2 separate regions of the Homo sapiens genome follow, and region 1 is linked to region 2. The links come from fine-mapping of genetic effects on gene expression. Tissue or cell type: whole blood. Region 2 holds a variant in brackets; the other region holds the start of a gene. All regions are shown on one strand. Distances are from middle to middle.

Region 1 (5,383 bases), 24 kb after region 2:
CCCAGTAACATGGACTCACCGATAGGCCACCTTGAGTCTTCCTAAGTGACAAGCATTTATTCCAAAGAACAAGGAGCAGCACCAAGACAAATGAACAAACAAGAGCTCAAGTTTGTGACTTGTTTTCCAGACTGCTCAATTCTCATTAAACATGCAAGCAGTAGTGCTGTGTTCGGCTGTAAGTGACGCTCTGCATATGCCTGGCTAGCTCCTCCACACGCATTTGTGGAGGAGCTAGCCAGGCATATGCGGAGACTTGCCATGTAACCTGCAGCAAGTTACTCACCTCCACCTCCCTATGTTCTTCTGCACTTCCTCAAAGTGAAAGTTCATTTATTAGGTAAGGAACAAGAATTGAATCCAAGTTTGCATTCACTGTGCCAGGCATTTAAAGCTGCCACTCACATGTTGTGGAATGAACTGTATGGTCTCTTACAGCCATAAAACATCCAAGTCTCTAGGATTATGCTGTTAGGTTCCAAAGAATATAGTGTACAGTAGTCATGAGAAATATCATGACTTTCTGAGATTATACACACATATGCATATATATGTATGTGTGTATATATATCTCTCTCTTCTCATATAGACATAAATCGGTATCAGAAGGTATATACGATACACAGTGTGTGCATATTTATGTATCTATCCCCTTCCTTTATCTACCTCTAAGCTAGGAGAGGCATCAGGCTGAAGAAGTCAAAGTATAACTACTAAAATGAGATAATATAGAAGAGAAAATATTTTTAAAGAATTAAAAATATAAAGCTATATAAATGCAAAAATATAACTAATGCTTAAGAATTATTAGACTAGTTGGCGGAAAAATTTCTTCTGAAGAGGGAGTAGAGTAATGCTATTGTTATTTTAAACCTCACCAAAAAAAAGTGAACTATACATAATCTCCTATACCAAGCAAAACACTGCAAAAGCTACAGGTGACCAGAATTATATAACGCCTTTTGAGAATGTACAAGCGTTTTCAGGTACATACATTTCATTAATTTCTAGAATGTTTTTAAGAGTTGCCAGACCAAGGCCCTGAAATTTTCAAATATAAAAATCCTATCTTGGAAGGCGGGGACTCTTACAGAGCTGGGGCCTAGTTTAGAATAGCATTATCTTAGATAAGAGCCCAGCCTCCCTCCAAGCCGTAACAGGAAATGCTTCATAAAGAAGTCTGCATCCTTAGTCCCAGACCTCCGCAGTTAGTATTTGGATTCTAGCCTTTATAAATGGACTTCTCAAAGGTGCATCCAACATCTGAGTATTCTGGCAGCAGTAACGTAAAAGGACTGACAAGGAAGGCTGCAGAGAGGTGTCAGACACGAAAACGCTTGAAGACATAAAAATGAGGAGTCTTAAGCACCTAAGAACTGCAATTCCCTATCTGAGCAGCAGGTAAGATTCTGGGGTATCAGATCACTGTATCCAGTTCCAGGTTCTCCACTGGCAGAGAGTGCAGTCTCTGACTTTGTCCTCTGAATGCAGGAACTTTATCGAAGCTAAAGTACCTGCTTTGGACACTTCTGGCACAGGTGTTGGGGTGACAGGAAACATCATCAATTCAGCTGCCAACTACAGCGGAAAAAAACTAGGGAATAATCCTCAGAAAATGGCACTGTTAATGGGTACAAAAAACACAGATAATAGGAATAAGCTCTAGTGTTCAGTAGCACAATAGCGTGACTATAGTTAACAATAATTTATTGTATATTTCAAAATAACTACAAAAATGAATTTGGAACAAAGAAATAAATGATAAATGTTTCAGGTAATGGATATTCCAATTACCCTGATTTGATCACTACACTGTATGCTTGAATCAAAATATCACGTCTCCTATAAATATGTACAACTATTATGTGCCCATAAAAACTAAAAACAAAAAAGAAAGAAAATGACACTTAAATATTAAAATACCTTTTATCCCCGAATCCCACATTTCAGTTTGGTCTTCTGAAAAAATGACTTATCAGTTTCTCAGCTAAAGAAATGATATCGACAGTGTACTACCTAAATTATACCTTATATTCTTTCCTTTCCAAAATATAAATTCGCCAGTGAACAATCTGATCCTAAAGAGGGCGGAAGATTAACCCGCCTAGCATGAGAGCACAGCTTAAAATAAATGCTGTTAAGTAGTCCTCAGGTAGAACAACTTTCCCAGCCAGCAGGCCCAGGAACTCAAGGTCTAGCTTAAGTTGGGTATTTGTATTCAAGAAGGAATTACAATCATGGAGTCAAATGACTTTTTCAATGCAGACGACAAAACGTAATCAAGTCAGTAGACACTTTACTAAGAGGAGGCTAAGCAAATGGTTATTTGCTTAAGGTTAGGGAACTCTTAAGCCCAAGGACCTGAGAGCCTGGGAAGGCGGGGGGGAATGGGTTTGACTCCCAAAGTTTGCGTTTCCGCAAGTGGTTAACACAACTCTAGGAACAAACCCTAAGACCAATACTCCCCACAATCTCATTTCCCCCCATTCTGCATCACCCATCACCCCAAAATAAAAACAGCTACTACAGCACAGCCCTTTGGTTACGCAGGAGGCTGGGACCTGATCCTGGCATAAAAAGCGGATGCGGGCGACCGAGGACCACACACGTGGGGGCGTTCGCGGGCGCTGAAACCAGCTACGAGGCCCACGCCCCCGCCGGGGACAGCTGGTGACCATCACCTTTGGACAGGGGCATTCCCCAGCCGGCCCCGGAACTTGCGAAAGACGCGCAGCCCTTCGGACTCAGCCACTCGCGCAGGGCCCGGGTCCCGGGCGGCTCGGGGCACCTGAGGAGCGCGGCGAAGGCGGGGACAGGGACGGGGACGGGGACGACTCGGGAACAGGGAAGCGCGCGGCCTCCCGCAGGACCCACCTGGATCTGCAACGGCACGAGGCGCACCTTGCAGCGCTCGCTCACCGCGAAGCCCTTGGGCAAGTCCACGTACTGGCCCCACTCCTCGGCGAACAGCTGCACCACGAATTTGCGGTGCATGTCGATCTGGTCGCCGTACAGGCTGAGGAACTTCTGGATGAGCAGCTCGTAGCCCGCCCCGTGTGGCACCGACGAGGGTCGCGCGAAGACTGAGAAACAGAAGAGCACCGGGACTGTGCCCGACGGCGCCCCCGCGCCCCCGGCGCCGCTGTTGGGGAGCGCAAGGACCGCCGGCTCCGCAGCCGCCATGTTCCCCCGAGCGTCTGCGAGCTCCGAGGCCGCCCAGTCGCACCCAGCCGGCTGCCGCGGCCCCGCCTCCCGGCGATGCCAGCCCGCCCGCCAGCTCGCGGAGGCGAAGGGGCGTGTCCTGACGACCGCTGCTCGCGCGCTCTCTTACCCGCCCCGGAGGGCGGGCCGCGGCGTAAGGGTGGGTGGTGGGGCCGGGGTGCGCGCGTGAGCCAGGGAGCGCCTGCGCTCGCCGGCCGGGTCCGCCCCCTCCAGCTTCCCGGGCCGCTGCGTTCCCGCAGTTCCCCGCTCGCGCCCTTTCTGCCGCGGTTCTGACTGCCGGCAGAACGCCTAGTGGTCTCGCAGACCCAAGACCCGCCTGGGCTGCCCGTTGTTCTTGCCCCGGTGCTGCAGCTCACACAAGGGTTTGTACCACCCTTCCCCTAACGCTGGCCCTCTTCGCGGCTTCGCTCGCCTTCGAATGAGCAGTGTTCTTGGCAGTCTAGGGTTGTGGTTGGGTACACAGAGCCGCCAGGACGAGTTACCTGTTGGCTCTGTGCAGAAGCATGCAGTCCTCCTCGAGATGGCAGTGGTATCTTACAACCAAAGGGACAGTCCGATAGATACCCTAAGAAGAGCAGCAGAATTTAATCCTTAGAGGGCCAGTCAAGGTTCAAGTTTTGTCTTTTTTCGGTCCCACAGAACACAATATCTCTAGGAATGGATTTGATATCTGGCCTCCCTTCATCTCAACCTATTTCTGGGAGGACTTGGATTTGGGAATATAAATACTATTAAAAGCAAAAATCTGAACTTTATATTGAAACTAAGGATATCTGTTTTTAAGTAAGTAAAAGGGATCACTTTCAAATAAAACAATCCTCTGCCTTCTGCACACTGTAAGGCGCTATAATTAACTGGAATTAGAAAGCATGCATTATGAACAGAATTTCCTTGGAATTGAGTCCTGCGAAGATAGGCATGGGCCTAAACATAAAATTAGATTTTAGGTATTAAAGCTGTCCTCTTCTAAGAAAATAACCTTTAAAGCAGGGTTTCCCAACTGACACTGTTGACTTCTGGAATGGACATTTCTCTTTCTTGGGGATGGGGCATCTTGTGCATTTGCAGGATATTTAGCAGCATCACCGGCTTCTACTCCCGCTAGATGCCTAGTGACCGCTCCTCCCTCTAGTTATGGCAATCAAAAATGTTTCCAGACATTGCCAAATATTCCCCAGAGGGCAAATATACCCCCTACTTGAGAACCACACTGCTTTAAAGTTATGAAAAGACCATCCTTTGGTGTTTCTTGCTCAATTGTACCGAAGCTACTAGAAATAGCCATTTTTTTCTGGTTCTCATCACACTTTGAGAGATCCCATTTAAAAGTGTTGTCTGAACCCGTCAGACCCAAAATGATATTTTTTTCCGGATACCACTCCATTGCAAGGTCTTCTATATGCAGATATGCTGATTTGTGCTAATAAGTGTACCCCCTCAAGACCTGATTACCAAAAGGTACCTACCTATTTTGGGTGGACTAATAAAAGTGTTCCTTCCACCCTGTAAAGCCTCCTAACACAGAGTAGGTTGGAGATTAGAGATTGGCCTAGACTTCAGACATCCTCAGCGAGGACCTTGGCATCTACACAGTCTTCTGCCGTGGCCCTCATGGCCGTGAGTCAACATACTTCATTTCCCTTTCATGTTTTTAAATTAGGTTTCTGACCCTTCAGTAAGGAAATCAACTTCCATATATATTGTGCTGTCTGAGATTGGTCCTTGACAACCTAGTTTAATGGTGCAATCATTGTGGTAATAGCATGTTAAATAACATTAATAAAATAGATATTTGATGGGCACATTTACCATTTATTGAATATCAACTGTGTATCAACCTCTGCATCACTGGGCTGCAAAAGGGAGGTGAATGCACATTTCAGTGATAAATTATTATCCTCAGAAATACAATTATTAAGATAATTTTTATAAATGTTACCAGAAAAAGTGAGTAAGACCCCATAAATGAATATTCAAATGACAAGTAGAAAATAACTGTTCTAATTGACAAGATCATATTATGGACCAAATGCCCAAAATTTTCTCATATAGGACTCTCAGTAGCTTTATTAGTTAATGTTAAATGCTTACTTTTAGAATCTAAATTCCAAGAAAATCAAGAAGGTATATTACACAGTATTGATTAATACATTAATATGCT
Region 2 (5,383 bases):
CTTCCCTATGACCTAATGGGTATTTAGGGAAAAAACCATAATTAGGTGAACTTCATTATTCAAAAACAAATTGAGTATTTTTAAATTTGTGAGATAAAACTTATAAGCCAAGAAGCAAGCAAGGTGTAAGAAGCTTCTTGAATCTTCCCATCCATTCAAAAATATTTACTGAGTGCAACTTCTGTGATAAATGCAAGTTCTAGGAGCTGAGGATATGGATAAACAGTGAAAAAACATACAAAAATCCTCATGCACATGAAACTTACTTGGGCTAGGCATGGAGGCTCATGCCTGTAATCCCAGCACTTTGGGAGGCCAAGGTGGGTGGATCACCTGAGGTCAGGAGTTCGAGACCAGCCTGACCACTGTGGTGAAAACTTGTATCTACTAAAGATACAAAAATTAGCCGGGTATGGTGGTGGGTGCCTGTTGTCCCAGCTACTCGGGAGGCTAAGGCAGGAGAATCGTTTAGAACCCGGGAGATGGAGGTTCCAGTGAGTCGAGATGACGCCACTGCACTCCAGCCTGGGCCACAGGGCAAGACTACATCATCTTAAAAAAAAAAAAAAAAAGAAAAAGAAAAAGAAAGAAACTTACTTGGAAAGAATCAAAATTTTTAAAACAAAATATACGTTAGATATCACCAAATGGGATGGAAAAAACAAAACAGAAAAGTGGGTAGGAACTACACATGTAGTGGTGGGAAGAAGGACCCTAATTTTAAATAGGGTAGTCTGCAAAGGTCCACTGAAATGATATTTGAGTAAAGATATGACAGTCGTAAGCATGGGGATATCTGGGAGAAGATAGGGTCAGGCAGGGAGTACAGCAAAAGCCAAGGTCCTAAGGCAGAGTGTACCCAAGATGTTCAAGAACAGTAAGAGGCTGGAGTGTGCCTTGGATAAGGTAAACAGGGAGCAAAGGATTAGAGATAAGGTCAATAAGGAGAATTACAGATGGCTGCAGATTTGCATCAAAGACTGGGGACTCCGGCTTTTCCCTTGGGTCTGGCTAGCTATGACTGCTGTGATCATTGGAGCGTGGGGACAATGACACCAATCCAGCTCCACACCTCCTCTTTAAGAGAACTGGCATCTTCTGCTGTGGTCTCCTGGAGCCCTCAGATACCATGTAAGAAAGTACAACTCCCCTGAAGGAGAGACAACGTGGGGAAGCCCTAAGACCACATGGAGAGAGATGGGGAAACCCAACTGAGCCCAGCCTTCCAGCCATCCCTGCCAAGGTATCAGGTGTGTAAGTAAAGCCAGCTCTGACCCTCCAGACCTGCCCAGCTATCAGCTGAACAGCTCAAGTTACTCAAATCAATACCATGTTGGAGGGTAGAAGAGTCAAAAAGCTCTAACCCAGTTCCTGACTCACAAAATCATGTTCTGTAAGTTCTTGCTTTAAGCTACTAGGTTTCACGATAATCTATTCCACAGCAATAGATAACAGAATCGGTCAAGCAGGTAGGGGAGGATGGACAGATGGCCTAAGGTCTATCACAATCAGAAGGCAACAAATACTATAAACAAGAAAGGTTATTATTTTGGAAACAAAAACTATGCAGGGGGATGTTACCAACTGGGAAGATGCTAGACATGGTCTCTCCTGCAGGGGAGTTGGAACTTCTTACATGATAGCTCAGGGCTCTAGGAGTTCACCCAGAGGCTGTCAGTCCTCTTAAAGACAAGGCCCGGAGCTTACATGGTGTCATTGCCCCCATACTCCAGTGGTCACAGCAGTCACAGCTAGCCAAGATTCACACAGTAGAAAATGACTTGTTAGACACAGGAATAGAAGCTAAGTTTTTCTGTCAAAATGCTTGCTGTGGTCTGAATATTTGTGCCTCCTTTCCCCCACCCAAATTCCTGTTGAATTCATATACCAATGTGATGGTATTAGGACATGGGTGGTCTTTAGGGGGTGATTAGATCATAAGGGCAGAATCCTCATGAATGGGATTAGCACCCTTATGATAGAGACTCCAAAGAGCTGTCTTGCCCTCTTCCACCCGTGAGAGGCAAGAACGCCCTGTGAACCAGAACTGGAGCCCTCACCAGACACAATCTGCTAGCATACGGGTCTTAGATCTCCCAGCCTTCAGAGTTGCAAGAAATAAATTTGTTGTTTATAAGCTGCCCAGTTTATGGTATTTTGTTATAGCAGTCTGAATGGACTGAGACAATGTCTTACTCTAAGTTCTCAGGCAGAGATTGCTATTGAATAATAATTCATTCAAGGGTCAGCTTTATGTGTCAACTTGGCAGGGCGCTAAGTTCTCAGCTATCCAAACACTAGTCTGGGTGTTATTGTGAGGTTATTTTGTGGATGTGACTGAAGTTCATGATCTTTAAGGAATAGCGATTATCCTTGATAATCTTAGTAGGCCTGATTTAGTCAGTTGGAAGCTCTTAAGAGCAGAACTGGGGTTTCCTAGAAGTTCCAACCTACAGACTGCAGTGTCAGCTTCTACCACAGAGTTCTATCCTGCCCTTCCTGATGACCTGCCATACTAATTCAGGCTTGTCTAGACAGCCCTCAAATTGGGTAAGCAAATTCCTTGCAATAAATTACTTTATATCTCCTACTGGTCTGTTTCTCTTATTCAACCCTGACTGATATGGTTTCTAATGAACAATTGGGGAAAGAGAGCAAGAGGAAACACCTGATAATGTAAAAAAGCTTAAGAGCCGATCCATACTTCAATTTTCATTAAAGCCCCTTGGAAGGGATGACCTGGCACAGAGCCCAGAGCATCCTTCCTTACACTTCTCCCCTCTCAGCTCCAGGCTGGTTCAGGAGATAATCCCAAATCTTCCCAAACTCCAAAGTTTGAATAAGGCTGAGAAAAGGCCAGAGGCCCTAGAGAAAATCTGTGGTTAACAAAAGGCAGAGTGAGCTGTAAAAATATGAAACTGGGGAGGCAAGGGGAATACACAATTCAAGCAGTATGACAGGGTCTGTAACCAGAAACCTGTGAAGACTGGACATTTGGAGAAAAGCCAAAGACCAAGGGCCAGTCAGCAAATAAGCCTCTGAAGAACAAAGCTATTTACCCCAAAAGAAACTCAATGAGATCTTGGAGTGATTATATTTAGCTATGTTTTCCACATCAGTAGAAACACAGGGCTAGAGAGTTCAGTTCAGTAAATACAGACGTTTGATTTTACACACCT[CAGATA/A]AGAATTATCCTTCTCTTTAGGGGAGGAGGTTTCTGCCCTTTCCTGTTCTGCAGTTATCACCTGTGCTGTGACATTTCTCTCACTCTCTGAATCCAGGACTTAAAGAATGCTGGAGAGGGGAGCGCATACCAGGAAACCAGTGATAAGGAGCCCGACTTGGGACCTGAACCTTCAGGGAGATTTCAGTTATTGTCTGTGGTAGGCAGATGGACAGTCCACAAAGATGTCCATGTCCAGGACAAGAAAGACAGGTCGATTCTACCAAATAACATAGATAGTACAACTGAAAATATAACTAAACTGCATGAATGATGATACATGCAGGAGGAGCAATGTGGAGATAAGATAATGTAAGTAAGCCAAAATCCTGATCTTCCAGGGGAAACAATTAGTAGACATTACCTAAAAGTTTAAATAACACCTTTCATAAGCATATTATTCAGTTATGAAGGCAGCTGGCAGAGGAAGACAAAAAGGCTGTTAGAGTGGTTTCTTCCAGGGAATAAGAATAAGGGTAGGGTAGCAAAGGGAAGGAATAGGAAACTCTTGCTTTTCACAATACAGTTCCACACTCTTGTTTTCTTAAAACACCCTTGCCTGTTATGCTATTAAAATTTTAAAAATCAATGAGTAAACCCAGTATTCTGGCAAGGACTAATTTCAAAAACAATGCTTTTATTTAATTGGGGAAAAAAGTTCATTTTATTACAAACACTAAGTGAGCCTGATAATATCCACCTGAAGTCCTGCGTGTTTAGTAAGACAGCTCTCTCCAAATAAAAATGATTGCCATTTTTTTAAAAAGCCAAATACAAAAGTATTCATTTTTTATTGCTGCATAGCAAATTACCACAAATTTATTAGCTTAAAACACAAATTGATTACCTCATGGTTCTGTAGGTCGGAAGTACAGGCACAGCATGGCGATTCTCTGCTCAGAGTCTTACAGGCGGAAATCAAGATGTCAGCCAGACCTCACTTCTATCTGGTGGCTCTGGGGAAGAATCTCTTTTTCAAGCTCCTTCACATTGTTTGCTGAATTAAGTGATGGTGGTTGTACGACTTAGGTCCCTGCTTCCTTGCTGGCAAAGGCCTGCTTCCAAATGATAGGATCCTCACATCTTTACCATGTGGTCTCTTACATCTTCAAAGTCAGCAAGGGAGAATCTCTCTCCTGCCGGAGACCTCTCACTCTTAGAATCTCTTTCGCCAGCTAGAGCCCAGTCCCTTTTAAAGGCTCAGCTGATTAGCTTAGGACTACCAAGCTAGTCTCCCTATTTTAAGGTAAACTGCTTTGAGACCTTAATTACCTCAGCAAAAACTCTCCACACCTGTTACCTAGGTACCTAGATTAGCATTTGATTGCATAATCGGGAGGAGGTGTGTGTATACCAGAGAAGTGGGACTCTTGGGGTCCATTTCAGAATTGTTTCCTATAGCAAGCAAATCAAGATTATAATCTCTCCAATAGGAATTAATAGGTTTACATACTGCAGGTCAAAAATCTTTAAGTATATAAATGCAATGCTGAATTTTTTTCCAGCATTACTGAGAAATAATTGACAAACACTGCAAATATTTAGGGTGTGTGCTGTTTTGATATATGATATATACTGTAAAATAATTGCCACAGCAAAGCTAATTAACATATCCATCATCTCACAGGTGTGTGTGTGTGTGTGTGTGTGTGTGTGTGTGTGTGCATGAACATTTAAGAACTACTCTCTTACCGTATATCAAGGAGCCTGTCTTCCAGAAATAAGGTTTCTTGATAAGATGGTCTACTGTTAAGGTACAGTAAGTAAAACTTAGGAACAACTTAAAGGAAAGCAATATGACATAAAAATTCTGAAAGCCAACTCCACATATTTAAAAAACTCAGTTCAATCATATCTAGGTAATTGATAAATCTCATTATGGTAGCTTAATGATTTTTAAAATATTTTAAATCAAAGTTTACATGGTGAAAGAATGCTCTATAGAGGACTAAGGAAGCACTAATCAATTTAATGATGTGGGAAAATTAATTCAAAATTAATAATGAAAATGACTAATTTTCATATATTTTAGCCATTTCCCCAAATTAGTTAGGAAATGTGCTTTAGAGAAAATCATCAAGGAAGAAATAAGACTAGATTTAAGGTTACAGCCAGGGAAAGTTATTAATTAGTAGCAAGAGTATATCCCATTAGCTTTGC

Evidence for each region. PIP is the estimated chance that this variant, and not a neighbour inherited with it, causes the effect.
Region 1: it holds the start of ISOC1, and the variant in region 2 is fine-mapped to the expression of ISOC1 in whole blood (TOPMed, PIP 0.93).

The regions. Positions count from the first base shown.
Region 1 is chr5:129,092,567-129,097,949 of GRCh38, reverse strand. ISOC1 (isochorismatase domain containing 1) reads right to left here and starts at 3,201. Exons shown (of 5, transcript NM_016048.2): 1 at 2,875-3,201. The coding sequence starts at 3,183. It overlaps MIR4633 (microRNA 4633), which reads right to left and starts at 262; the gene lies at 184-262. It overlaps LOC124901060 (a long non-coding RNA gene), which reads left to right and starts at 1,171. Exons shown (of 2, transcript XR_007058926.1): 1 at 1,171-1,401; 2 at 2,551-5,024. RefSeq lists a silencer at 2,804-3,583.
Region 2 is chr5:129,116,152-129,121,534 of GRCh38, reverse strand. No RefSeq gene overlaps it. Among named protein-coding and RNA genes, the nearest start is that of MIR4633, 21 kb to the right of the region's middle. The variant CAGATA/A (reference allele first, on the strand shown) is at 3,180.